5 linked regions of the Homo sapiens genome follow. The protein of the gene in region 1 purifies or fractionates together with the protein of each later gene. This does not show direct contact. Each region holds a gene or a part of one and is shown on either strand. Other genes may lie near its edges.

Region 1 (5,975 bases):
GCCACATAAGCATGGTGAGGATATGCAGAAGTTTGTCTACTTGGCCTACTCCTGGTTCCTATCTCCTGAGCCTAAACTCCTGGGTTATTTGGAACACAGTTTGAACTCTAGATGACTTTAAGACTTCATGAAGGTCTAAAAATCTGTAATTCCTATTTTAAATCAGATGAAAATTATTACACAGAAAAAAGTTATCATAGAAAGCACAGGACTGAATTTGATCATAGCCAGTCTATTATTCGCAATGCTTCATTCTGGTATTCGAAAATTGCTTTGATCTAATCATTTGAAAATGAAAGGCCATGAAAAATTTTAAGCATCAGGTGATTTACTTTTGGTAGTTTGGTTGCATTTATCCTGAGTTACATAGACCTAGTTTCCAGTATGCCACTTTAATGGTGATGTGATCTTAAGCCAGGTATTTACACTACCGTGAACACCAGTGGTTTACTTGAAAATCTGTGAAGCCATCCATTTATAGCTCCATGATATAGAATAAAGGAGATAATATTTGTAGAACATCTAGCATCATGCTTAATATATGGTGTTTGATAAACAGAGAAGAAAGACAATTCCTAATTCTTGATTTTGAGAGTTTTACATTCTTAAAAGAACATTCTATCAAAAGTTTATGTAAATAGAGATTAAGAGGTTAAGACTTTTTCTGAGTTGCTTAGAGTTATTGATTATAGAGTTGCCATTATTAAAGGATACTGTGTTCAAAAACCTGTGAAGTCAGAAAGGCTTTTGGAATAAGGGCAAAATAGAACTTGTAATTTAAAGAGCCTTTGTTTTGGCCATGAGAAATGCAATTCAAGTTCTAATCGACATAATTTATTCTGCTTGAAATCCAAGTTTTTAATAGGTCAGTTGATTTATATTTCTCATGTTTTGCTAATTAATTGGTAGGTACTAATGTTTAATATTTTGTCTTTCAGCAAATTAAGAATTAATATAGATATTACTGTTGCCATGAAGTGTCAATGTAAGTACACCTTCAACTTGCTGAATCCACATGTAGGTTATGGTTCAAACAATTGCCAAGCAAAAATAAAAATCACTGGTTGTACTTTATTTTTCCTTTATAATATTTTAAAGTTTTACTGTGGTATTATTTAATAATACAAATTGTTTTACTCCTCAGCTTATATTCTTCAAGTTTCTTTTCCATAAAGAGAAGAGATAAAACTTTCACATTAGTATAATTAAAAGAAAGTTGGAGGAAATGTTTGTGAATCAGCATTCTAGTTTATGTACATCCTTTCTGTCTTTTTTTGTTTGGAGTACTAGCTTTTATACCCATGTTTCACAAGCATATCCTTGTGTCACTGTTTCAGTTTACCACCTTTTATGTTTACTCTTGCGTTTAAAAATACAGATCCAGTTATTTTAAGTTAATGGTGATAGGTTACCCTTTTCTTTTTTCGTCACTGGACTCACTTGGTTATACTAATAGAAGTGGAAAAATGCTAATATGCCAGATAGTGAATGTTTGAATCAATACTGTTTTCAAAAATAAGAATGCTTTTGCATGAAAAATATTTTATGAGTTACTGCTTAAAAATTACAGACCAAGAACTCAGAGAAAATTTTTACATTTTTAAAAGTATGAAATAATTTTACCCAATTAATTAGAGGTTATTTTCTGTGAGATTCTATCTCAGAACGACCTTGAATCTCTTTCTTTTCAATATGTTTTTCCTTATGTTGGTGGTTTTAAGAGATAAAAAAATACTTTATTTTTAAACTTGTAGTTAGTGGTAATTCTGAATATATGATATTCTGCCTTATTTTGGATGTTTAAATACTGTTAAATTTTAGCCTTTTCCGAATAAAATTTCCTATTTGTTGATTTGTAGCATAGCTTTACGATTTCTTTTAATCTCTAAAAATATTTCTTGGAATTAATATTTTGTTCAGCAGCCACTTAGTACTTGTGATTAGGTTCTTGCCGATATTTGCAAAGCTCTTCAATTCAGTGACGCTTATCCTTTTTAAATGAGATCTTGAATTATCTTTTTTTTTTTATTGGGTAAGAAGTTTTTTACTGGGTAAGAAAAAACATTATTACATTTTGGAATAATCTCCACCTAAGCTATATAAGGCTACTGTTTTAGCTTTTGGACAAATATATCGGAAATTATTCTACATAGTTGGTGAGGTTTTTTTTTTTTTTTTGCTTGGTGAGTTTTCTGTTAGTTGGCTTAATTTGTTTATATTGGGGATGGTTTGCCTCCAAGCATAGAATGTAAAACTTCTAATTCTTTTTTCTATGCAGATGTTGGAGCGGATGTATTGGATTTAGCAGAAACAATGGTTGCATCTGCAGATGGTTTAGTTTATGAACCAGTAAGTTTGATTCACATGGTTTTTTGAAATACACGGGTTGAGGAATCGTACGCTTGAAGACAGATAGTTGCTTTTAGTTTTGTCTGAAATAGTTTTTAGTATAATTCTTTTATTTCAAAAGTAATCCATATTCTTTGTAATAAATTTAGGGGGAAAAACAGAAAAGTTATATTATATACCAAAATCTTGAGGTGACCATTATTAACATTTTGGATGTATTTTGGATGTGTCTAAAGTCTGTTTTATAACCTTTTTTAATATTTTTGTTATTACTTTCCAGTAGTTTCCTTTTCACTTTTCTTCTAGTTATAGTGATGAGTTTTTTTCTTTTTCTCTAGTAATTTGGAAACTTTTATGTCCTGTTTGTATTCTACTATGACCAAATTTAAGTATTTAAAATATTTGAACTGTATTTCTCTTACAATCAAGAATAAAGTAGTATCTTTCTAAGAGGAGAAATGTCATGGGCATTACTACTTCCTTCCTCCTTTACGCCTCTATTTCCCTCAGCGTGTGAAATGCTGACATTTTCTTATTATCTTCAGAGCACAAGTTGAATATAACATCGTAGATTTATCAGAAAATATTGTCACATTTCAGTGGCAGATACAGTGATAACGAGTCATGATCAGAACTAGCCCTAAATAAGCTTTCGAGAATAAGCATGAGGCCCTCAGCAGCTAAAAGTTGCTCTGTTGGCATGGTGGTACTTAAATTTACGCATGCGTTCTTGAGTTCCTTTTCTTAATCATTGACAATTGTGAACCTTTCTTTTAGCAAATTTGCAAAGTGAAGAGTGAAGGTGAAGGAGGGGGAGTAGAAGTGACTGAATGTATGGGGTTAAAGGAAAGAAAATGAAGTCCTTGGCCAGTTTTGATTATTGAATTAATTTTAGTTTACAGCTACAAACTTGATATGTGCCTTTTGACATATACATTTTAAATAGAAATTTCTACAGAAACAGTAACTTTTGTTATTGCCACTCTGACTCTACTTTCTGACTCGTTTTCCCACTCAAAAAATCGATTTTGAAGTAATTTTTTATGAGCTTAGTTACCTTACAGATTCATATATGACAGCATATTACACTATTATCTGCTCATTTTGATCTAAGTGATTATTATTAGATATTTTAATATTTGTATTACATTTTATACTATCTTAAGAATACTTATTTAACTTTAACTTTGTTTTTTTTTTTTTAATTTTCTGCCATTCTTACCTTATTTTTGTTTATCATTTTGAAGAGGGACTGTTTTTTCAACTTTTAGTTTAGATTCATGGAGTACATGTGAAGGTTTGTTACCTGAGTATATTGTGTAATGCTGAGGTTTTCAGGTTATGATTGATCCCATCACCCAGGTACTGGGCATAATAACTAGTAGTTTTTCAATCCTTTTCCTTCTCCCTCCCTCCCCTCTCTAATAGTCCCCACTTTCTGTTGTTGCCATTTTTATGTCTATGAGTACCCAGCGTTTAGCTCCCACTTATAAATGAGAACATATGGTGTATGGTTTTCTGTCCTGCCATTTATTTGCTTAGGATTATTGCCTCCAGCTGCATTCATGTTGCTGCAAAGGATAAAAGTTTCTTCTTTTTTATGGCTGCATAGTATTCCCTGGTGCATGTATACCACATTTTGTTTATCCCATGTACCACTGATGAGTACCTAGGTTGATTCCATGTATTCGCTATTGTGAATGGTGCTGCAATAAAGATCAGAGTGCATGTGTCTTTTGCATACAATGATTTATTTTCCTTTGAGTATATACCCAGTAATGGGATTGCTGGGTTAAATAATACTCTACGTTCTTTGAGAACTCTCCAAATTGCTTTCCACAGTGGCTGAACTAATTTCCATTTTTACCAGCAGCATATAAGTGTTCCCTTTTCTCCACAGCCTCTCCAACATCTTTTTTTTTTTTTTCTTTTTGACTTTTTAGTAATAGCCATTCTGACTGGTGTGAGATGGCCTCTCATTGTGGTTTTGATTTGCATTTCTCTTATGATTACTGATATGGAGCATTTCTTCATGTTTGTTGACCACTTGTATATCTTTTGAGAAGTGTGTGTTCATGTCCTTTGCCGACTTTTTAATGGGGTTGTTTTTTACATGTTCAATTTATTTAAATTCCTTATAGATTCTGGATATTAGACCTTTATCAGATGCATAGTTTGTGAATATTTTCTCACATTCTGTAGGTTGTCTGTTTACTCTGTTGGTAGTTTTTGTTTTTGTTTTCTGTGCAGAAGCTCTTTAGTTTAATTAGCTCCCACTTTTCAATTTTTGTTTTTGTTGCAATTGCTTGTGGGGACATAGTCATAAATTCTTTCCCAAGGGTGATGCCCACAATGGTGTTTTCTAGGTTTTCTTCTAGGATTCTTATAGTTTAAGGTCATTTAAATCTTTACCCATCTTGAGTTAATTTTTGTATATGGTGAAAGATCTGGGCCCAGTTTCATTCTTCTGCATATGGCTAGCCAGCTCTCCCAGCACCATTTATTGAATAGAGAGTCCTTTCTCCATTGCTTATTTTTGTTGATTTTGTCAAAGATCAAATGGCTGCAGGTGTGCAGCTTGATTTCTGGATTCTCCATTCTGTTGAGGGGGGACTTTTTGAGATTTATTTTACAGCAAGAATGTGTAGGTATGTTTTATGGATTCTAGCATGACTGCCTGTATCTTCTGCTATTATCTTTTATTACCCATTTTCTCTGTTGCTCTGAACTGGGAAAATCCCTTTCACATGGGTTTTTCTATCCTATGAAATAAACTTATTTTGTGCTCTTTCTCAATTTGGTTTCATTTGTATGTTGTCTTGTATAAATTCATGAAAGTTTACAGCATATGAATATTAATTTAAAATGATTTAAGATGATAATAAAGGTTGCATCCTCATTTTTATGTTTCTTTTGGATGCTGAGAATTATTGTTTATGTATTATAATCTTGAATGTATCCTCTAAAAGTCACTTACACTGTTTCTCTAGCATTCTGTCCATATTCTAACTGTTGTGGTCACTCTCTTTTTTTTTTTTTTTCACATTTATGAGATGCCTGATGCTATCTTTTTTTTTCCCCCTACATCTCTTATCTTTCTAGCTGGATTTTAAGCTCTTGAGAATCATTAATTTCATTCTTTCATCTTTGTAGTTCTCAAAATGCATTGCAAAATGCTTTGCAGATTTTAGGCAATAGTGATATGTTAGAATTAAGCAGTTGGGACAGTATTGTTGACTGTTTTCATTGTAAACAGTTTCTGCCATCTCTTCTAGTAGTTTATGGAGCAGGAAAATTTTATTTAAATTGTTATAATTAAAAATTGTATCTTAATGAGAAAGTTAAGAACTTCAAAATATTTAATTGTATACTTTTCATTAGTAATATTTAAAGTGTTTAACCATGCTTTTAGGAAACTATTCATTCCTTTGTGCTAATTTATATAAAAGTGTTTAAGAATTATTTTTAATATAAAATTATTAAAAATATCATTTTAACTTAAAAATTTTTCACTCATTATTTTAATATGCACTCTGAATATTAAAAACCTAGCCCTGATAACTTTACTAGTTTACAAGCCATGATCATACAATATGCTATGATAGTTACTATTCTGCTATTTCTAT
Region 2 (5,975 bases), on another chromosome or scaffold:
GCATTATAGTATCAGCTGGGCAAGGTGGCTCATGCCTGTAATCCCAGCACTTTGGGAAGCCAAGGCGGGAGGACTGCTTGAGCCCAGGAGTTCAAGACCAGCCTGGGCAACGTAGCAAGACCCCATCTCTAAAAGTAATAATAATAATAATAATAATAAAACTTAAAAATATATATAATAATATCACAATATATAGGGTTGCTATGAGGAATAACCTGTTATGCAATGTGTTTAAAACAGTACCTGACACATAAGTGTACAATAATAGTATAAAAATAATTACTATAAATAGTAAAAAATAATAGTATAAAATATTACTATTTTATACTATTTTATAATTTTCATTTTACAGCCAAGAAACCAAGGTAGGTGATTTAACATTACTTAGCTAACAAGTGGCAGAGGTAGAACCCAAACCTACACCTTCTGACCTCCAAACCCTAAGACCGTTCCCATTGGACCACAGCTGCCTTCAGCCATTCTTATCTGGAATAAGTCACCACAAATGATTATCAACTTGTTTCCCTGCCTTACCCTCTTGTTCCCTTGGAGTCTTCCTTGTCAATCACTTACCAAGGTAACATTGAGTAGGTGATACTCTTACTCAGGCACCTTTCCAGGCTAGGACTACCTGCTCTGGAGGAATATCTGTTAACACATCAGACAGACGAAGGCTTCTCTCAAGTTTTCCAGCTGTGTTGACTGAACAAAACTACTATGATACACTATTATACAATTCTCTAAAAAACCAATAGGCCGGGTGTGGCAGCTCACACTTGTAATCCCAGCACTTTGGGAGGCCGAGGTGGGCGGATCACTTGAGGCTAGGAGTTTGAGACTAGCCTGGGTAACATGGAGAAACCCCGTCTCTATTGAAAATACAAAAAATTAGTTGGGCATGGTGGCACGCGCCTATGATCCCAGCTACTTGGAGGCCGAGGCACGAGAATCGCTTGAACCCAGGAGGCAGAGGTTGCAGTAAGCCAAGACAGCACCACTGCTTTCCAACCTGGGCAACAGAGCAAGACTCTGTCTCAAAAAAAAATAAAATAAAATAAAATAAAAATAAAAAATAAAAAGCCAATGGTCTTAGCTGAAATGCATAACGAAAGGGCTAAGACAAAACTTTCTACAGGAAGTGTACAGATCTGAAATATCAACTATAATCTAATGTTAGCACCCTTACAGAACAGTTTTTATTTCATGCACTCTCCTGATATTTGTCCACGTACACATTTTTCTATAACTGCAATCATGATGCAATTTGAACTTATTCAAGCTTTTTCATGTTTTTTTTCTTTTTTAAGAGATTGCTGGTTTCAAACTCCTAGGCTCCAGTGATCCTCTCGCCTCGGCCTCCCAAAGTGTTACAATTACAGGTGTGGGCCACCACGTCTGGCGAATATTTTCTTCTATAAAATTAGTTCCTTAACTCCTGCGTCAAACAGTATAAACTTCCAGATAGGGATTTACCAATATATACCATGAGGCTTCAAAATACTTACATAATCTAACCCAATTATTCCACGTATAGGAATTTATCCTGATGCAATAATGAGATATATAAAAATATTTATATAAGGCCAGGCACGGAGGCTCACCCCTCTAATTCCAGCACTTTGGGAGGCCAAGGCAGGCGGATCACCTGAGGTTGGGAGTTAGAGACCAGCCTGACCAACATAGAGAAACCACATCTCTATTAAAAATACAAAATTAGCCAGGTGTGGTGGTGCATGTCTGTAATCCCAGCTGCTTGGGAGGCTGAGGCAGGAGAATCGCTTGAACCTGGGAGGTGGAGGTTGTGGTGAACCAAGATCATGCCATTGCACTCCAGCCTGGGCAACAAGAGTGAAACTCCGTCTCAAAAAATAAATAAATAAAAATATTTATATATAAAGTTGTTCGGTCAGGCGCGGTGGCTCACACCTGTAATCCCAGCACTTTGGTAGGCCAAAGAGGGCAGATCACTTGAGGTCACAAGTTCGAGACCAGCCTGGCCAACATGGTGAAACCCCGTCTCTACTAAAAATACAAAAATTAGCTGGGCTTGGTGGAGGATGCCTGTAATCCTAGCTACTCGGGAGGCTGAAGCGGAGAATCACTTGAACCTGGGAGGTGGAAGCTCCAGTGGCCACTACACTCCAGCCTGGCCAATAAAGTGAGACTCTGTCTCAAAAAATAAAATAAAATAAAATAAAATAAAATAAAATAAAATAAAGTTGCTCATCACAGTATTATTTATAATTGCAAAAGGCTAGAAGTAGTCCAAATGGTTACAAAACTTCTGATGTACCAATATGATTAGCATGTAACCTATAACTATATAATTAAAGAATATTTAATGATGGCCAGGTATGGTGGCTCATGCCTGTAATCCCAGCACTTGGGGAGGCTGAGGCATGAGCCCAGGAATTTGAGACCAGCCTGGGCAACATGGCAAAACTAGCCAGGCATAGTGGCACCTGCCTGAAGTTCTAACTTTTCAGGAGACTGAGGTGGGAGGATCACTTGAGCCCGGGAGGTGGAGGCTGCCTGCAGTGAGCCGAGATCGTGTCATTGCATTCCAGCCTGGGTGACAGAGTGAGACCCTGTCTCAACAACAAAAAAAATTTAAAAAAAGAAATATTTAATGAGAAAAATAATTCATGTATTTCATGCTATTACTTAACTCTTACGACTCTATAGATATCCTTATTATTCCTGTTTTACAGATAAGGAAACTGGGTCTTGGAAAGGTTAAGTAACTTGCCGAAGCCCACAATACGGTACAGCCAATAGACCTGGAATTTTAGCCCAGAGCATATATTCTTTTTTTTTTTTGAGACGGAGTCTCGCACTGTAGCCTGGGCTGGAGTGCAGTGGCGTGACCTTCGCTCACTGCAACCTCCGCCTCCCGGGTTCAAGCGATTCTCCTGCCTCAGCCTCCCACGTAGCTGGGATTACAGGCGCCCGCCACCACGCCCAGCTAATTTTTTGCATTTTTGGTAGAGACAGGGTTTCACTACGTTGGCCAGGCTGGTCTCAAACTCCTGACCTCATGATCTGCCCGCCTCGGCCTCCCAAAGTGCTGGGATTACAAGAGTGAGCCACTGCACCCAGTGACATTCTTTCATAATAGCTGGTTTTTTTCTTTATGTTTTTGTGGGGTATCAAAATTACTGCCAATAAACATGTTACTCATATAATTTAAATAAATGTTAATTTTAAAAATGAATTTGCTGGCTGGGAGTGGTGGCTCACACCTGTAATCCCAGCACTTTGGGAGGCCGAGGTGGGCAGATCACCTGATATTGGAAGTTCGAGACCAGCCTGGCCAACATAGTGAAACCCCATCTCTACTAAAAATACAAAAAAAATTAGCCAGGCATGGTGGCGGGCGCCTGTAATTGCAGCTACTTGGGAGGCTGAGGCAAGAGAATCGCTTGAACCTGGCAGGCGGAGGTTGCAGTAAGCCAAGATTGCACCATTGCGCTCCAGCCTGGGTGACAAGAGTTAAACTCCAGCTCAAAAAATAAATAAATAAATAAATTTGCTATAGGTTCTTGAACTCTCCATTTAAGAACTCTTTCTTATATGTCAAAATATTTTAAGACACCCCCTCCACAACACCCACAGCAGTACTTTCAGTATCTGTTCGTTCACAAATTGTCCAATGACCAAAAATAACCATGCATTCAGCATTCAGTAATGCTTTTTCTAGCAATGGGATTTTTTTTTTTTTTTTTGAGACAGAGTCTTACTCTGTTGCTTAGGCTGGAGTGCAGTGGCGCAATCTCAGCTCACTGCAACCTCCACCTCCCATGTTCAAGCGATTCTCCTGCCTCAGCCTCCCGAGTAGCCGGGATTACAGGTGCGTGCCACCATGCCCAGCTAATTTTTGTATTTTTAGTAGAGATGGGGTTTCACCATGTTGGCCAGGCTGGTCTTGAACTTCTGACCTCAAGTGATCCACTGCCTTGGCCTCCCAAAGTGCTGGGATTACAGGTGTGAGCCGCCATGCCAATGGGAATTTTTTTTTTTTGAGATGAAGTTTTTGCTCTTGTTGCCCAGGTTGGTGTGCAATGGCATGATCTCAGCTCACTGCAACCTCTGCCTCCCAGGTTCAAGTAATTCTCCTGCCTCAGCCTCTCAAGTAGCTGGGATTACAGGTGTGTGCCACCATGCCTTGCTAATTTTGCTTTTTTTTTTTTTTTTTTTTTTGGGAGATAAGAGTCTCGCTCTGATGCCCAGGCTGGAGTGCAGTGGTGCAATCTCGGCTCACTGCAAACTCCGCTTCCCGGGTTCACGCCATTCTCCTGCCTCAGCCTCCTGAGTAGCTGGGACTACAGGCACCCGTCACCATGCCTGGCTAATTTTTTATAGTTTTAGTAGAGACAGGGTTTCACCATGTTACCCAGGATGGTCTCCATCTCCTGACCTCGTGATCTGCCCGCCTCGGCCACCTAAAGTGCTGGGATTACAGGCGTAAGCCACCGCGCCCGGCCTAATTTTGTATTTTTTTTAGTGGAGATGGGGTTTCACCATGTTGGTCAGGCTTGTCTCAAACTCCTGACCTCAAGTGATCTACCCACCTTGGCCTCCCAAAGTGCTGGGATTACAGGTGTGAGCCACCACGCCCGGTCACCAATGGGATTTTAATAACCACAATAATACCTATGGATTCACAGACCTCCAGTCCCTCAAGATGTGGCCTATATGGTGGAAACCACCAGCAGAGGGAACCCAGGTCAACCAGTGAGAAAAGACAGAAATCACAATAGTGGAAATAATAACGAAATAGCGACCTTTTCAATCTTTTTTATAAACTTGTTGCTTTTTAATAGGTGAGATAGTCCCATGGTTTGAAAATGTAAAAACATAAAAAGGTATAAAGTCTCCCTCCCACCCTTTCCCCCATCTGCCCAGCTCCCACCACCACTATTACCCGCTAACACCCTTATAGCTATTCATTTATGTATTAATATTATTCAGGCATATGCAATCAAATACAAATGTATGTTTTTGCTTTTTTTACACAAATGATAGCAAAATGATACTTGCTTTTATTTCTTAACAGTATGTCATAGAGATCTCTCCATATCAGTACATGCAGAGCTTCTTCATTCTTTTTTATAGCTGCATAGTATTCCACTGTTTATATTCACCATCAATGATTATTTAATCAATCCCCTACTCATGAACATTTGGTTTGAAATAAAATCCCTTTATAACAAAGCATATGTTCAAATACATTTATTGTACCTGCTAACAAATCCAAAATACTGGGAATCCAACCTCCTACCAGGACTTCTACCCATACTATGTAGAAACCAGAAGAGTCACTGAAAGGAGATGGTGATGGAAGCAATGCTAGTCTGACACCACCCACTCCAACCTCCAGAACTGAGGAAAAGCACTGGCCCACATGCACTCTCCATTAATTGTGGGCATATATACCTGGGAGGGGCAGCCTGACATAACTAAAGGAGAAGTGGAGTCAGGAGACCTGGGTATGAGCCTTAGTTTCACCATTTCCTGGCTACCTGATTCTGTGCAAGTCACTTAAACTCTCTGAGCTTCAGGTTCCTCATCTGCAAAATGAAGATAATAATATTTTAACTCAACAAGCTAATTGTGAGGACTACAGAAGATGAATACACGAACATACTCTGTAAACCATAAAGTGTAATACATACACTGTATGGTTTTTCAACAATGATGCAAATTGTTATTATGGGTCAATATCAGCAAGAATAACTTAGAATTTATATAAATATACATGTATGTACAGAAAAACTTACCAATAAGAGTCGCCAAAGAGCAATGAGGTACTGTTGGCGTGAACCTGATAATAACCAGATATTCTTCTTCATTTATCTCCTGAACTTCCACACAACTTTCCGAGACCACTTCCAGTTCTTCTAAAGTATTGGGCTTTTCTGGGTCCCGGATAGTTCTAATCAAATCTAAAGAATCATCAGAGATAAGATATTCTA
Region 3 (5,252 bases), on another chromosome or scaffold:
TTGCCCAAGACTGGAGTAGGCAGGAGGCGAGATGGGCCAAAACCCAAGTCTGATTGCTGAACTGTACACTGAACAGTGCCCTGCCCTGACAGTTGTGTGCATGTGTATGCATTTGTATGGGGGATGTGTGTACATCTGGGTGGGTGCGTTTGTCTGTGCATGCATGCGTGTGTGTGCACCATCTGGGTGCATGGGTCTGTAAATCTGTGTGTGTGTGCATATCAGTTCATGTGTGCATCTGTATGTGTGTATGCACGTGTATCCATGAATGCCTGTGTGCCTGCAGGTGTGTGCATCTGTGCGTGTGTACACCTGTGTGTATGCATGTGTGTACCTTTGCGTGTACCTTTGCGTGTGTGCACCTGTGCATGTGTCTTTGTATACCAGTGTGTACCTGTGTGTACCTGTATGCATGCACATGCGTGTGTACCTGTGTGCACCTGTCTGCATGTGTGTACCTGTGCGTGTGTGCACCTGTGTGCATGCATTTGCGTCTGCATGTGTCTACCTGTGCATGCATGAACCTTTGCATGTGTGCATCTGTGTGCATGCATGTGTGTCTGCGTGCATCTATGTACCTGTGTGCACCTATGTGCATACACACGTGTCTGTGTGCACTTGTGTGCATGCATTTGCATCTGCATGTGTGTACTGTGCGTGTGTACCTGTGCGTGTACCTGTACACTTGGGTGCATGCATGCACGTCTGCTTGTGTGTGCCTGTGCGTGTGTGCACCTGTGTGCATGTACGTGCGTCTACGTGTGTGCCTGTGCATGTGTGCGCCTGTGTGTACCTGTGTGTATGCATCTTTGCACGTGCACATGCCACTCAGGTAGGGAAAGATTGGAGTCCGAAGTTTCAACTTTCAGTGGGTGGGTTAGGCCCCACCCCGCTGTAAATTTAGGAATTCACGATCTCCACCCTGTTTATCTAATGAGTTCTCAGCCTCATGAAGGCCCAGAGTCGTGTCACAGCTGTCCTTGGGGCTGGGTCCCCAGGTTGCTGGGTCCAGAAGGTATGGAAGCCCCAGGCACGTTCTGATTCCCCTTCCACTGAGGCAGGGATGCTGAACATCTTTAGGAAGCCATGTTCACTCCCATGGCAGCCAGCAGTGGTCTCTGATTGCCCAGCCCTTGGCCTGGCCCCTGTGTCTGTGGGCCTCCAGCTCTGCTGCCCAGCTCCAGGCATGCTTTGTGTCTGTTTCCCTTGTCCAATCTCCTTGGCTACGTGCTTTCTTACTCTCTTGCAGTGTCTGTTTCTTCACTTGTGCACTGCCCTGGTTCACTGCAGCCGCACCCTGTAGGCCCCTCTCACGCAGGGATGCAGGCCTCTCCTCTCCGGAAAAAGCAAACCCTAAAAGCTAAAACAAAGCCCTCAGCTGTAGGCCGTGCCTGCCCTTCCCCGGTGCCTGGACAGGAAGCCAGTCGCCTGCCCATACTTTTGGCCCAGGCTAGAGAAGGGCAGTGTCCTCCCAGAGGTTCATCAGTACCAGGGCGTTTTCCCATCTGGACCTGAGCTCAGCTGTCTGGCAGCCACCCCTGCTGAGTGGGGTGTCTTGCTGGGGCCTCCACCCTTGGGCCCCCCATAATCTGCTTCTGTCCTCTGGTGCCCCAGCATGTACCCTGGATCTCTCTGGTTCACAGCCTGAGGGCTCCTAGTGGTTGGGGAGGGGTCACAAGACTGAGAGGCCAGGCTGACTCTTTCTCTGCTCCTCCTGGCATGTCCTACGGAGGTGCATGGCCTGTGGCTTCTGTGGAGGGTGTGGGAGGGGCCCCCCAGGCCTCCCGTGACCTCCATCTGTCCCGTCCTGTGTCTGGCACTCTTTGCTGTTGCTGCTGCGTCTTCTGGTTGCTCGGGACGGAGCCCCATGTGGCATTGCTGTGCTGAGGGCCAGGATGGGCCTCAGTGCCATGTTGTCAGGAATGGGGGCTGTCCTGGTACTCTGTGTGGCAGGGACCTCTAGGTCTCCAGACGTGGGTCCTTAGTGCTTCCCAGGATTTTGGGAGAGGGCCCGTGTTCCTGATCCTTCCCTGCTGATCAGAGCCCCACTCGGGGACACGCCAGGCTGTGTGGGGCCATGGGGCTGGGACCGTGCCTAGCTGCTTATCTCTTGTTTCGGGTTGGGTCTCCTCGTGCTGAAGCCTGAGGACCAGGGTGACCAGGGTGCAGCCAGGTGCAGGGCCAAAGGGACCAGGGGGACCAGGGTGCAGCCAGGGTGAAGCCAGGGTGACCAGGCATGGGGCCGAGAGAGCCTGACACGGCCCTTGGGGCAGATGTTCCAGCAGGTCGACTTCAACAGGAAGCCAGGGCGCATGAGCTCCAAGCCCATCAACTTCTCCGTGATCCTGAAGCTGTCCAATGTCAACCTGCAGGAGAAGGCGTACCGGGTGAGGCTGGCCTCCTGGGGAGGGGCCTGGGCAGTTCCCAGGGTGGGGTTGGGGGTGCTGAGGTGGATGGGAGGGGGCTGGCATCCTCCAAGTTCAAGCATGGACCTTCATGGTCTCCCAGGGCTGGGGCCCAGGAGCCCCTTCCTTGCAGTCCGTGCCCTGGAGATGGCGCTGCCCTGACAGCCTGAGGGGAAGGGGCCTGAGTGCCCAGCCCCAGCCTCTCCCTGATGCACTCGGCCCTCTCTCCTGCTCTTCAGGACGGCCTGGTGGAGCAGCTGTACGACCTCACCCTGGAGTACCTGCACAGCCAGGCACACTGCATCGGCTTCCCGGAGCTGGTGCTGCCTGTGGTCCTGCAGGTGTGTGTCCTGCCCACACCGGCTCGTGGCCGACTCAGACTGTCTTATAACGGGCTTGGCTGCCCCAGGCTGGTAGGAGGTGCCCTTGTCCCGGGTACCTGGGACTGGGGTGGAACCTGACTGCTGGCAACGCGCCCCGTGAGGCCCCCTTGGAGGGGCTGATGAGGGGTTCTAAGCCATTCAGGAGGTTTGGGGGCAGGCCTGGGCAGTGGGCTGAGGACCCTGGGAGCACAACAGCCTCCTCCCCAGGTGGGAACCACAAGGCTGATCTTTGCTTCGGGGTTGGGACTGAGCATGCCGACCCTGGCTCAGGCTGGTACGCTGATCGCACACTTCCCCAGGCCATCCCGGGTGTGGGGAGTGGGTGGAGTGGCTTCTCAGGTGGCAGGAAGGCCTGGCCTGCCCCGCCAAATACCCCACATCAGCCTCATAGGAAGGCCCAGCCTGCCCCGCTAAATACCCCACGTCAGCCTCATCTTAGGCAGGAGTGGGGTGGAGGAGGGGGTTCTCCTTATCCTCAGAAGGTCCTTCTGGGCCCCCACGGGAGGTCTGTTTGCTCTCAGCCGTGATGTTTCCAGCCTCAGGGAGGCCTGTGCCTAGTGGAAGGGGTGGGGGCCCTGCTGTCTGGCCCTGGTGGCTGGAATCAGATGTGCCGACTATAGGTCTGTGCAGTGTGGGGAGGAGGGATCTGCTCACATGAGCCACAATTGGTCAGAGGCTTATCCAGATAGAGGTGTGTGCATGTGTGTGTACTCACACACGGCCACACATGTCACATGCACAGAGCCGGGACCCCCTTTCTGGGGGGCACTCACAGCAGGGGCCACAGCCTCTGTTCCTCCCATGTCCTCTTGGGTGGTGATACCTGGCATTGGGGCATCTCTGCTTCTGGACTCAAGGGCCCAGGGTCGGGGTCTGGGGTAGGGGTCAGAAAATGTTTTTGGTGAGGGGCCAAATGGTAAACGTGGCTTCCTACGGATGTTCAGCTGCACAGGCAACTGCAGAACCATGCAATGCACACGTGTGGCTGCACGTCAGCGAGACTGTATTTTATTAGTAGTAGTAGTATTGTTTGAGATGGAGTCTCGCTGTGTTGCCCAGGCTGGAGTGCAATGGTGCGATCTCGGCTCACTGCAATCTCCATCTCCTGGGCTCAAGCGATTCTCCAGCCTCAGCCTCCCAAGGAGCTGGGTTTACAGGCGCCCACCACCACACCCAGCTAATTTTGGTATTTTAGTAGAGACGGGGTTTTGCCACGTTGGCCAGGCTGGTCTTGAACTCCTGACCTCAGGTGATCCACCCGCCTCAGCCTCCCAAAGTGCTGGGATTACAGGCGAGAGCCACCACGCCTGGCATAAAACTTTATTTCCAGAGGTGAGTAGTGGGCAGGGTTGGCCCAGAGGGTGGGCTGATTCTGCCTCTGCCATCCCAGCTGCAACAGCTATGCACTTGAGCCCTGAGATGGGATCCATGTCCCCTCCTGGGGTATCCCCGTGGCCACCACGCGTGGTTTTGCACAGGACCTGGGCCAGCTGTGCACATGGAGCGGTCCTGGGCTTCAGTGGCTGACCCCTCCCTTCCGCAGCTGAAGTCGTTCCTCCGGGAGTGCAAGGTGGCCAACTACTGCCGGCAGGTGCAGCAGCTGCTTGGGAAGGTTCAGGAGAACTCGGCATACATCTGCAGCCGCCGCCAGAGGGTTTCCTTCGGCGTCTCTGAGCAGCAGGCAGTGGTTAGTGGGCCCTGGGGGTAGTGCCACCTGAGGGCACCTGCCAGGGTATAGCCCCAGCTACATGTGGGGGTTTGCCCAGGGTGAGGCATGACCCTGAACTCCCCCAACCCCCCAGGAAGCCTGGGAGAAGCTGACCCGGGAAGAGGGGACACCCCTGACCTTGTACTACAGCCACTGGCGCAAGCTGCGTGACCGGGAGATCCAGCTGGAGATCAGTGGCAAAGAGCGGGTGCGGCTCGGCGAGGGGACCTGGGGGTGTGTTGTGACTTCCTGGGTTTCAGATCTAGCGCACTATGACTTGAGACCAGGGCGAGGGTTTGGAAACAGTGCCAGGCGGCCAGGGCCGTGCCCGGATGATTCGACTTGGAGAGGGGGTAGGTGTTGGAGAACTGGCCAGAACCAGGCGTTTCCAGGGAGGGGAAGCCCCAGGCTGCACTAGGTTGGGGAGGCCATGCCCCCTCAGGCCTGATGGGCTGGAGGCTCCGGGCAGGTGGAGTGGCTGGACTGACCTCGTCACCCAGGCCAGTATGTGGGCACCAGGGGCCCGTGAGGAGAAGCAGGAAGGGCTCTGCCTTTGACCTTGGACATGGGATGGACAACTTGGAGGATGGCTTTGTGATTTGGGAACAGAGGGGACTAGAAATTGGCCACATGGGGCCCTGGTGGTGGGTCTGGCGATGCCTGGCCCTGCTGTGGCCGCCAGCCCCTGCCCTCTCTCACCTGAGCCCCTGGTTCTTTGGCCTTCCAGCTGGAAGACCTGAACTTCCCTGAGATCAA
Region 4 (5,975 bases), on another chromosome or scaffold:
CAGGCCCTGTGTGGGCCAAAGGTGGGAGGCCTTGACAGGGGAACGAGCTGCATGACTTGCTTGGAGGGTTTGGGGCCATAAATACTGATTTCATTTCTGTTTTTAACATCTGGATTTAGGCTAAAAAGCTGCTTCCTGGCCTCAGGGCGCAAGGCCACAACAGCTAAATATACCTGTTTATTTCCCTCAAGAGGCCAACTTGGCATCTCCTCAGACCCAGCCGCCTGCCACTTTCATACTCAGTCTCTGGCCTCTCTGGAATCATAGCCCCACCAGACCTGGGACAGCTCTGCCTCAGGAGGCCAGCAGTCCCTGCCACCTCTCTCTCTGTCCTTCCGTCAGCTGTAGGCCTGGCCCCACTTAACCTCACAGACATCTGGGGTAGAGTTGCCAGATTTAGTAAATAAAAGTACAGGGCTCCCAGTTAAATTTGAATTTCAGGTAAACAATGAGCATTTTTTTTTTTAGTACATTATGTCTCATGCAACATTTGAGACTGACTTATGCTGAAATAGTACTTGCTGTTTATCTGACATTCAACTGTAACTGGGCATCCTGTATTTTATCTGGCAACCCTGATCTGGAAGAATAAAGCAGAGCTCGAGGAAGAGGACAGCCTCTCATCCTGCTCAGGTAATAGAGAAGCCGAGGCTGGATCCAAAGGCAGCCATGGTCCCTATAGTAGAAAGAGCATAAACTTAGGAGTTGAGCCAGGTTAGAACCTCAGCTTGGCAGCTCAAAACTGAGGACCCTGGGGCAAGTGCCTTCTCGGTTCTCTCATCTGTCGAGTGTGAGAAATCAGACCTGCCTTGCAGAGCTATTGAGAGGATTCATTGACAGGAGGCCCCTAAAGTTTGTTTAGTATGTGCCCAGGTGTGATGACAGTGCTTCTTGTGATTTCACCTGGTTCTCTACCCACCAGTCCTCCAGACATGCTGGAGGGCAGGGCTATCAGTTCATGATATAGGGCAATGCCTTGATCCTCTGCCAGCCTCCTTATAAGCCCAGGATTTGCTGCTCCAGAAGCTAGTCTTTATTAATAGGCATTATTCTAATTCTGCTTTCTACCCAGTAAAAAACGGGTTTGGGTCAGCAAAGATAATAATATATTGTGCCCTTACTCTCTGCCAATCCTGTGCTGAGGGACTTGCATTTGGCCCTGGTAACACCACAATGAGATCCGTTAATACTGTGCCCATTAATAGTAAGTGAAACCGAGGGGGTTTAATAACTTACCTAAGGACTCATTGCTAAGTGGTGGTGCCAGGTGCCAGGATTTGAATCCAGATTGGCCTGCCTCTAAAGCCTGTGCTCTTTTTTTTTTTTTTTTTTTTTGAGACAGAGCGAGACTGTTGCCCAGGCTGGAGTGCAGTGGTGCGATTTTCTGCTCACCACAGCCACCTCCCAGGTTCAAGCGATTCTCCTGCCTCAGCCTCCCAAGTAGCTGGGACTACAGGCACGCACCACCATGCCCAGCTAATTTTTGTATTTTTAGTAGAGACAGGGTTTCACTATGTTGGCCAGGCCGGTTTCGAACTCCTGACCTCATGATCCTCCTGCCTCAGCTTCCCAAAGTGCTGGGATTACAGGCGTGAGCCACCACGCCCAGCTTAGGCTGTGCTCTTAAGGACAAATGATATTCTTCTTCTCCTGCTCTGGGCCCTAGTGACTCTTCAGGGACAACCACCACTAGCCGAATCTCTATTACAAAGGAAGCCCTTAGTCAACCTTATGGGAAAACCAGAATCCTACTCTGGAGTTAGGGGCAGCAAAAGAGGAGCCTCGCATAAAGAGGAGGTGTTCTCTCGGCTGGGGATTTCTACACCCACTTTCATTGCTTGAGGGCTTCCAAGCGCCAGGCCCAGAACTCTATGCTTTGTGGTATCATCTCATTTAATCTCTACAACAACCCTTTGGGGTCCCTGTCCCCACTTTCTAGGCTGAGGAAACTGAGGTTTAGAGAGATTGAGCAAGTCGATCCAAGTCCCAAGGATAGTAGCAGAGCTAGGACCTGAGCTACACTGTCCCATTCCAGAGCTAGACTTGTAACCACTATTCCCTCCATGAGTCTTTTCCTTGTTCGCTCTCCTCCAGGCATCCCAGGACCCCCAACCCCTCTGCTGTTCCTTAGCCACAATTCCAGGCTTTATGTTTGGAATTGTGGGTCCTTTCAGACCTGCCGAAAGATCTGGAGAAACTACACAGGTTTGACATCCAGTCCGTGGGCATGGTGGCTGTGAGATGCACCCCAGAACCCCAGGTCTCCCACTCTTCCATACACACACTGACACCACTTACCACTGGCGGACGCCAAGATCATGGCTTGCAGCATCTCTGTGTCAAACTGGTTGTTGGGCCAGGTGCCGGTGTCATCGCCATTTTGGGAGCTGGGGAGAGAGTAGGATGGTGAGCACAGACTCCCAGGCCGGCACAGCTCATGCCCCTCCTGTCCTCTCCCAGGGCTCCCAAACCTAGTACCCTAACCCTACCCCATGCCCAAGACCTGTTTCTCTCAGCAAGGTAGGAGGCACTTCTACAATCCTTCAGAAGCCAGAATCCCACAAGTCAGTCCCTCAAACCAGCTCTTTGCTGCCTCCGATGCTTTTTTCTTTTTGTTTTAGACAGGGTCTTACTCTGTCATCCAGGCTGGAGTGCAGTGGCGCGATCTTGGCTCATTGCAACATCCACCTCCTGGGTTCAAGCGATTCTCCTGCCTCAGTCTCCCAAGTAGCTGGGATGACAGGCACCTGCCACTGTGCCAGGCTAATTTTTGTATTTTTAGTACAGACGGGGTTTCACCATGTTGGCCAGGCTGGTCCAATGCATTGAACATAGTGCATTCCCCCACCCACCATGAGAGAGCCTGGCTTCCTGTCATAGTGAGGGAGATCAGACCTTCTCCAGAGGACTGTGAAGGTGGGAAATGGAAGAGAATGTTCCAGAGCTAGAGAAAAAGTGGGGACCTAGGAGGTACCTAGGGGGAGATGTAGGAGGCCCCAAGAGACCCTGGAGCAGGGAGAAGAAATTTCTAAAATTCAATGGCTTCCTAAGCCCTCAGAGTAAAATCCACGGCCATAGAAGAACCTGCCCCTCCTATTTTACAAGAACCCCCACCCCCCGCCCTCAAACACTCTATCATCAAACCTTTTCCAAGGTGCACTTTCCTATCCCTCAAGTTCCCTCTTGCTGTGAATCCTGGGCAGATGGTGTTCCCTAGAATGCCAGTCCCCCAACATTTGCCATGATGACACGAATAAAATATATCAGAGGAGATCCACTCAGACTGGGCAGGTGCCTCCACTGTACTCCCATCCCAGCGGCTGCCCCACATGGCACTAGTCACACTGCAGCTGTTGTAGTGCCTGTCTGTTCCTCCACCACACTGGCTTCTGTGAGGCAGCGACTCCACCTGCTTCCTACTGAAGCACCTAGCACAAAGCCTAGCACTTGGACCTAAGTGAGACTTTTAGAAACTCCGAGTGTTGAAAAAACATGAAATGATTCATAATTTAAAAAAATACTAAACCATAAGAAGAACTCTCTGCTTCTTAGAAGGTTCAGCTCTACTTGGAATTTTCCCACAGTGACAATTTTCATGATTTTTTTGAATTTCCAAGGATGAAATTATTTCAATTTGCAGGGGAGTGTTGGCGGGAAACAGCCCTGGCACACACACAGTCTGCCCTTTAGGTAACTGTTTGGCACCATCTGGCTCAGAGAAGTTTTTCAATAAATATTTGTTGCCTAAATGAGTGGGAAGAGACCAGCAGAGACAGTTAAGTGACTGTAAGGTAAGAAGAAGGGTTTGGCACCATGGGAAAGGCTGTAGGGTAGGCCTTGAAGGCATGAAAATGTCTGTGTGTGTGTTGCGTTGTGTGTGTGCATATTTTGTCATGGTGGGTGAGCACAACCAAGAACTGCTTTACAATTTTTCCAAGGTCTGTCCCTGCTTTTGGTTTTGCCCAATCTGGGATTCCCCGTCCCTAAGTAGATGAACTCAGCCTAAGAACAGACACAAGGCTGCCATGTGTGACCTCTATACCATCACAACAAACATAAAGCTAGGGTTGAAGGGGAAAGCAGGAATCTCAATTCTCCTTCCCAAAAGTGGGAAGAGTTGTAATTCTGTTTCCATTGATTCAATAATTATTTCTTTTCTTTTTTCTTTTTTTTTTTTTTTTGAGCTGGAGTCTCGCTCTGTCACCCAGGCTGGAGTACAGTGGCGCGATCTCGGCTCACTGCAACCTCTGCCTCCCAGGTTCAAGTGATTCTCCTGCCTCAGCCTCTTGAGCAGCTGGGACGACAAGTGCACACATGCCACCATGCCCAGCGAATTTTTGTATTTTTAGTAGAGATGGGGTTTCACCATATTGGCCAGGTTGGTTTCGAACTCCTGACCTCATGATCCACCTGCCTCCGCTTCCCAAAGTGCTGGAATTACAGGCGTGAGCCACCGCGCCCCTCCAACAATTCTTTCTTGAGCAATTTCTATGTACCAGACACAGAGCCAGGTGCTGGGGTTGTGGCTGTGAGTATGATAGAAACTGTCCATCTTTACGGTGCTCATGGTGGGCACTGAGAGGCTGATTTTAAATAATTACACAATAGAGTAATTGCAATTGTGATACTTGCCATGGGCTGTGTCAGGGGCTACCAGAGGGTATGAAGAGAGGCAGGGGCGGGCAGACCACGAGGTCAGGAGATCGAGACCATTCTGACCAACATGGTGAAACCCTGTCTCAACTAAAATAGATATTAAAAAAAAAAAATTAACCGGGCATGGTGGCACACGCCTGTAATCCCAGCTACTTGGGAGGCTGAGGCAGGAGAATCGCTTGAACCCAGGAGGTGAAGGTTGCCACTGCACTCCAGCCTGGCAACAGAGCTAGACTCCCTGTCAAAAAAAAAAAAAAGACAGAGAGTCAGGGTTAGGCAGCTCAGCCAGTCCAGGCTTCCCCAAGGAAAAGACAGTGAATTTAAATCTGAAGAAATCATCCAGGTAATTTTCAGAAGAATACCAGCAAATACATGTAGAAGGAATGACAGAACATCACCGCTTTGTAATCACTGATGTAAAAACAGATACAGGCAAGGATCATCAGGGAATACTAAAATTGCATGAAGGGTTGCTGCCTATCTCAAAGTATCATCCACAGATTACTTATATTTTCACAAATATTTTAAAATATCTTTATAAAAATATATTTTTATAATGGAGAGATCTGGGACACTGTTTTTACCACACGAACAAACTCGGCATCACTGATAGTGGGACAGGCCGACGTTAGATGAGTCCCAGTGTGATGCTGCGGGAAGTATTCCTACCAAGGTGTGTAATCTGAATCTAACCATCAGAGAATAGCCAGCAAATCCAGGTTCGGGGACATTTTAAAGTACAACTGGCCTGGACTCTTTAAAAATATCCATGTCATTAAAAAAATAAAAAGACTGGGAGCTGGCTCCAGATTAAAGGAGAGGAAAGACGTGACAACCAAATGCAATCTATGCTCCTTGATAAAATCCTGGATTAAAAAAAAGGATAAAAGAACACACAGAACATTTATGAAAATCTGCTGGTGGATTCTATATTATTGTATTAATGTTAAATTCCTCAACTGAATATCTGGGGTCCTTACTTCCGGCCCGACTGAGCTCTGTGGGCCTGGCTGAGGGTGCAGGGTCAAGGCCAGGTGTTCTCAGCCCCAGGTGAAGGGGGCTAATGGGAATAAAGTAGGGAGAGCAGGCAAGCGGCGGGGGTTGCAGGGAGGAGAGCATGCGGGTTGTCAGGGAGACAACGGGACCAGATGCCAGAGGTTAGGAGGATGACCTGTCACAGGGAGCAGTGGTGTTGAGGGAACAAAGCTGAGTGGAACAGTGGGGTTGGAACCATGATGATCAGGAGTGTAAGGAGGCGTCCTGGGAAATGGTTGAAGGTTGAGGGCCAAACAGGTGGGTGGGCTGCCAATTATGTGAAG
Region 5 (5,435 bases), on another chromosome or scaffold:
ATCTCACCAGGCCCCCCAGGACCTCTGTCCTCAGGGAGGAGGTAGCAGATCAGAAGACAGTGCCCAAGAGCTTGGGAGGAGGCCAGAGCATGACTCCAGGCTCACTCCCTACTCAGAGCAGCTTCCAGGGCTTGGGTTCCAGGGGACCCAGGAGGTAGCTGCAGGTGTCCCAGCCCCTTGTTGGGGGGTTCCCTCAGCACATTTCAAGCATTTCTTCAGGGATGCACAACCAGGGGGTGCCTAACACTAGCCAAGGGGCAGGGCTGCACCTCTACCATAGCAGCCAGGAACCCAGTGCAGAGTGGTTCTGGAATCGGAATGGGCTGGAGGGAGCAAGTTACACAGAGGCCCCATGAGAGACCCCAGGATCCACTGAACACAGAGCCACCACTGCAGGCCAGATGGCCTGACACCTGTGGGCACGCTGACCTCCCTGTCTCCACACAGTCACCTCATCGGGCAGATGGTGTCCCATCTCAGAGATAGCTGGCCAAGGCTCAGGTGATGGGGATCGCAACCTTTCATGCCCGGCCAAGGCTGCCCCAAGAACATGGAGTAGACTCAGATTCTGTCCCCTACACTGTGCCCCCAATGGGGTCAGGCTCAGGCCACCCACCCAGACCTCCGGTCCAGTGGCATCCACCATGCAGATCCCCAGTGCCAGAACCTGCCTGCCTGGGCATTGAAGGGGAGCTGGGCCTCTAAAGGCAGAGGAACTACCAGGGTCGTGCCTGCCTCCACTCACAGGGGTCCTGGGATCCAGCAAGAAGATCCTGGATCCAACAGCCCACATGCAAAAGACACAGGTCCACAGAACTGGAGCCTGGACAAGGGCCTGGCCAGAGGCCTGGAGATAAAGCCCCTCCACCTGCTCTAGGGACCCCCCAGGACCAGCATCTGCCTCCAGCCAGACCTGACCAGGGCCTCTCGGTCCCCAGAAAACCCAGGCAGGGGTCCTAGCAAGCCCAAGGCAGCTGCAAAGGGAAAACAGAAGAGAGAGAAATCTTCCCTGTCATCCTCAAACCAATGGGTCAGGGATGGGAAGTGCCCAAGGGGCTGCGAGTAGCTAGGCAAGTCCCTCCTCCTGTCAGGCCCCTCTCCTATTGTAACACTCTCTGAGCCCCCTAAGCGCTGACATTCTGGGATTCCAGAACCTCAGTTGTTCCCTATCTGTACAATATGTACAGGGGACTCATCAGTCCCAAGAGATGCACCGTCTCTCTGAATAACATGAAACAAAACAGGAAATTCCAGAAGTAAGGTAACTTTACTCAGATAAAACACAGATGGTAGCAGATAGAGGCCACAAGCTCATGGGATGCCATTCCAGAGGGCCCCTCACCCACAGAGGAGCCCCTGTAGGAAGGAGGCCCAGGCCCCATCCGCACAGCAAGTCCCGGTGAGGGGCTCTAACACACCCCCACTCCAGCCTCTGGTCATGGACACAGCCCATAGCGGGCACAGCATCATGATGGAATGGACTCTGCAGGCCACGCATGGCTCCTGGGAACCCCCAGCCCCTCCCTTCTCCTCCCAGCCTTTCCAGCTGTCTTCCCACCAGGAGGGCTCGGAGGTCACAGCACGGAACGTCTTCCAAGAGCCCCTGCCTATCTTTCTGCCTGGATGTAGGCAGGAGCTGGGGCTGGTGCAGGAGCCAGGGCAGGAACCAGAGATGGGGTCAAGCAAGGAGTCCTAGTCCAAGCAGGGCCTAGACTGCGGCTAAGGCTAGGCTGGATTCTGTGCTAAGAAACAGCATAGAAACCTGCGGGCAGAGGCTCCGGCCCAGCCTGCGGAGCACAGGATGCAGCAGGTGATTTCTGTGCCCAGCACACAAGCTCTGGCCTTATCACATTTTCCTCCACTGGCCCTAGAATGAGCAAAGAGCTTGGGCGGATAGCCTGAGCCTCAGCCAGGGAGCAGGCTGGCCTCGAGGGAGCAGGTCAGCCCAGGAAGGGAGGGGTCTGCCCATGACCAGGTGGGGTGTGGCCACAGTAGCTGGAGATTGGCAGCACCCACCCGCTCTCCCATCCCCAGGGAACTTTCTTCCAGCTTGCCAGGTGTGACCCACTCCATCTCACCGGGACCCTCACAGCAGCGTGTCGGTGCGTTTGCTGCGCCACACCACCAGGCCAGCCATGGCGACAGTCAGAACGACGGGTATAACGATCAGCGGGATGAGAACCTCGTCTGGGGGGTCCTCCAAGTGGACCCTGTCCACGGTGCAGTTGGAGAAGAACTGCCTGTGGATGCCGGTGATGAAGCCCTGGGCCAGGGGGTTGGGCCAGTAGCAGCCCACGACATTGGCCTCCATCTCGGTGCAGTTGGTGAAACTCTCATAGTACCTGCAAAAGCAGAGGGGGTGAAAGCCAGGCTCTCGCCATCCCCCCTCACACCTGCCCTGACCTGAGGCCAGGAAGATGGGTGGGGTGGCTTGGGTACAGTCCCATTTGGCCACCTATTCACAGCCCAGCCTTGGAAAATCCCCATTCTGGCCACAGGGTCATCTGTGCCCATGACCCATTCCCTGTGTCCCCTGCCCACATTTGCATCACAATGACCATGACTTGCTGCCTTTGAGGCCATGAGCTCCCAGGATCCAGGGTCTCAGCCCAGCTTCCCTGGACCTCTAAGCACTACGCAGGTCTGCCCAGAGGACACACCAAGCCATGCTTCTCCAGGGCCAAAGGGTGCCTGGATCACAGCCGCTTGGACCTGCAAAGCCTTCATCATCCAGGATACCCTAAGAGCCTGAGAGGAGGGTCTCTCTGAGGCCAGGGGCCAGCCACCTCCTAATCAAGTCAGCCTGCCCTCATGTGCCAGGTGGTGGCCAAGTGGGAGTCAGACCTGTGAGCCCCAGTCCCTGCCTCTTCATCTCCTACTCAGAAGTTGCCTCCTTCAGCCCCATCTAGCAGGACATGTGGAGCCCCCTCCTGTGGGTCCCCCTGTCCATGAGATCAAAGATGGGAAGGGCACTCAGCAAACCACCCATGATGCTCCATGACCGCCCAGCACAGGCTCTGGACAGTCCTCATGCTGACCAAGGGCTATAGCCACCAAGACCCAGAGGTCAACTCAGCATAAAGGACTTCCCAGCCACCACCTGTTCCAATGGGCAGCCTGTGGAGGTGATGACCTCCCTGTCATTGGGGTCTGCAAGGCCTAGAGTGGCAGCCACTCATTCAGGATGTTCTAGACGAAGCTAGATGGACTCCTGCCCAGATGCCACCCCCTCTGTGCAGGGCTAGCACTTCCCCACGTCTGTGCTGCATGAGTACAGATGCAGGAGTGTGAAGGGTCCTGCCTCGGCTTCCCCATGGGAAAGTAGCCCATCTCCTCCTTCCCGCGCTGTCCCAGGAGGGAGCCACTGATCTGGCCCATCAACAGGAAAGAGCTGCCTCCTGCATGGAACATCATCTGGGCGTAGATTTCCCAAAGCATCAGAAAGGGGTAGGAAACAGGGACTCTGACCTACTCCACCCAGGGTTCTCCTGGTCTCCCAACCCCATGCCCCAGGAAGGGTCTGGGAAGCCCAGGTACAGTCACTCAGCCCAGCTCCTGACTGATCCAAGGCTGGCTCTCAGCACCTTGGAATGTAGGTCAGACACACACCTGTGCCTTTCCAGGTAGTGTCAGCAGAGAACAGCCAGAGCAAAAGAAACAGCCTCGAATCCAAGTACAAAGCTGTTGGCTCTCCTGGGCCTCAGCCACAATGCAGCACCTGAGACATGCCCAGGCATTAGAGACACCTCAACAGCTAGGTCCATGGACAAACCCTCATCTTCCCTGACCTGCTTCTCCCACAGGGCCTCAGATTCAGTAGCCTGCTGTCCACCCCAACCCCCCGCCAGCTGATCCAGGAGCTGGGGAGCCGTCTAACAACACCCTGCAACAGCCTTCACCTTCAGAAGTTCCCAGCATCTATGTGTGTGATGAGAATCACATGCGGTAACCTCTGTGCCTCCAAAGTCATTCCACTGAACTGCTACCCAGGAATGCCACCCCCCAACAACCATCCCCAGGGCTGAGATGAGCCAGACAGACCCTGGAGAAGACCCTCTGTGGACAGCGAGTCTACAGGGCAAGAGGAGTGATGTCTAGCCCCAGAACCGTCCCAAGAGGAGGTGAGGCAGGGCTGAAAGCCCCTGCTGTTCCCAAACCCCACTCCCAGCCAAAGCTAGGCCACATGGAGAAGCCCACGGAGCAGAGGTAATCCCAGAAGACAGCATGGACAGTGGCTTCAGGCTCAGGTTGCAGAGCCAACATGGCAGGGCCTCTCCAACTCCAGCTCAGCCACTCACCATCTTTGTGGTATGGGCCATGTCATTTATCCTCCCTGGACCTCAGTTTCCTCATCTGTAAGTGGGTTTAATAACACTTATCCTATCAGGTGGTTGAGAGAACCAAATGAGTTGAGGTCCATGTGCCCCAGCAAGTGCCTGGCACAGAGGAGGTCATGGGGTGAGCCCACCCCAGCTGTTAGGTTTGGGGCAGAGCTGAGCACAGCACCCATCTCTGTGGATCCACAAAATCTGCATTTTTGTCACATATCTAGAGAGGTCCACATTCAGTGCTTCTCTAGAAAACCGGGAACTACTTATGATTTATTCATCCCCTGGATAATCTGGGGCCTCTCCACTCCTCCTTCAGTCAGGCTCCCCAGAGCACTCTCCCTAAAAAAGATGCACCACAACCCAGGATGGGAAGGAGAGGAGCCCAGCAGGCTGGAAGCCGGGCAAACCCCCCAGTCAGACTCCCTCTCCCCCCACCCACCTCTGGGGTGTTTGCCCACCTTCCTTTATGTTTCACCACCTGAGTGTGTTCCCAGGCAATATAGTGTTGCATTTGGAAATCCCATAGCAATGCTCCTTAACTGGGTACAGAAGGAGCCCATTGCTGCTATTGGAGGGAGGTTCCCAGGAGAGGACACGCTCTGGTTGCCCCGAGGGGCAATGAGACTCCTCCCCAGGGAAGGCCACAGGCAGGCCATGGGCGAGTTTGGGGAATAGGGTCTTCCCAGCCATGACTCGACTCCTGATGGGGTCGTCATGTGGACCAGTCCTATTGAGGGGAGCAAGCCACCTCTCCTCTAAGCTCACCAAGGCCCACCCTGCTTCAGTGGGGACCAAAGCAGAATGAACATTCAGGGGAAAGAAAGGAGTGTCCTTCATTCTTGACTGAGCTGGGCTGCAGGGCATGGGCAGGCAGTCACCATGTCAGGTAAGCATCAAGTGCCCTCCACCTGGGCCAGGCTGCCTCCACCCAGGGTGTACTGCCACGCTGGGGCACCGCCCTCCCTGGGGCTTCCCTCTCCTGCCTTGGCTCCGCTCCCCAAATCTCATAGCTTCTTTTGTCGTGGTTTGCTCCACACCTTGGCGCACAGCCGCCAGAGCTTGAGAAAGGTATGTGGGAATCAGATGCTGGAGGTGCCACACGTC

The links.
Region 2: the proteins of ERGIC2 (region 1) and CIAO2A purify together in Homo sapiens (co-immunoprecipitation; one large-scale study listed by IntAct). This does not show direct contact.
Region 3: the proteins of ERGIC2 (region 1) and NOC2L purify together in Homo sapiens (co-immunoprecipitation; one large-scale study listed by IntAct). This does not show direct contact.
Region 4: the proteins of ERGIC2 (region 1) and PCDHGB4 purify together in Homo sapiens (co-immunoprecipitation; one large-scale study listed by IntAct). This does not show direct contact.
Region 5: the proteins of ERGIC2 (region 1) and RAMP3 purify together in Homo sapiens (co-immunoprecipitation; one large-scale study listed by IntAct). This does not show direct contact.

The regions. Positions count from the first base shown.
Region 1 is NC_000012.12:29,363,251-29,369,225, reverse strand, and holds part of ERGIC2 (endoplasmic reticulum-Golgi intermediate compartment protein 2), read left to right. Parts: intron 1-938; coding exon 939-985; intron 986-2,278; coding exon 2,279-2,349; intron 2,350-5,975. UniProt on the Homo sapiens protein: Possible role in transport between endoplasmic reticulum and Golgi.
Region 2 is NC_000015.10:64,082,907-64,088,881, forward strand, and holds part of CIAO2A (cytosolic iron-sulfur assembly component 2A), read right to left. Parts: intron 5,946-5,975; coding exon 5,781-5,945; intron 1-5,780. UniProt on the Homo sapiens protein: Component of the cytosolic iron-sulfur protein assembly (CIA) complex, a multiprotein complex that mediates the incorporation of iron-sulfur cluster into extramitochondrial Fe/S proteins.
Region 3 is NC_000001.11:945,625-950,876, reverse strand, and holds part of NOC2L (nucleolar complex protein 2 homolog), read left to right. Parts: intron 1-2,273; coding exon 2,274-2,387; intron 2,388-2,644; coding exon 2,645-2,746; intron 2,747-4,331; coding exon 4,332-4,475; intron 4,476-4,590; coding exon 4,591-4,704; intron 4,705-5,223; coding exon 5,224-5,252.
Region 4 is NC_000005.10:141,501,805-141,507,779, reverse strand, and holds part of PCDHGB4 (protocadherin gamma-B4 isoform 1 precursor), read right to left. Parts: intron 2,388-5,975; coding exon 2,299-2,387; intron 1-2,298. Other genes in the region: PCDHGC5 (protocadherin gamma-C5 isoform 1 precursor), read right to left, coding at 2,299-2,387; PCDHGC4 (protocadherin gamma-C4 isoform 1 precursor), read right to left, coding at 2,299-2,387; PCDHGC3 (protocadherin gamma-C3 isoform 1 precursor), read right to left, coding at 2,299-2,387; PCDHGA12 (protocadherin gamma-A12 isoform 1 precursor), read right to left, coding at 2,299-2,387; PCDHGA11 (protocadherin gamma-A11 isoform 1 precursor), read right to left, coding at 2,299-2,387; PCDHGB7 (protocadherin gamma-B7 isoform 1 precursor), read right to left, coding at 2,299-2,387; PCDHGA10 (protocadherin gamma-A10 isoform 1 precursor), read right to left, coding at 2,299-2,387; PCDHGB6 (protocadherin gamma-B6 isoform 1 precursor), read right to left, coding at 2,299-2,387; PCDHGA9 (protocadherin gamma-A9 isoform 1 precursor), read right to left, coding at 2,299-2,387; PCDHGB5 (protocadherin gamma-B5 isoform 1 precursor), read right to left, coding at 2,299-2,387; and 11 more. UniProt on the Homo sapiens protein: Potential calcium-dependent cell-adhesion protein. May be involved in the establishment and maintenance of specific neuronal connections in the brain.
Region 5 is NC_000007.14:45,180,064-45,185,498, reverse strand, and holds the end of RAMP3 (receptor activity-modifying protein 3 precursor), read right to left. Parts: intron 2,343-5,435; coding exon 2,087-2,342; 3' UTR 1,249-2,086; downstream 1-1,248. UniProt on the Homo sapiens protein: Accessory protein that interacts with and modulates the function of G-protein coupled receptors including calcitonin gene-related peptide type 1 receptor (CALCRL), calcitonin receptor (CALCR) and G-protein coupled estrogen receptor 1 (GPER1).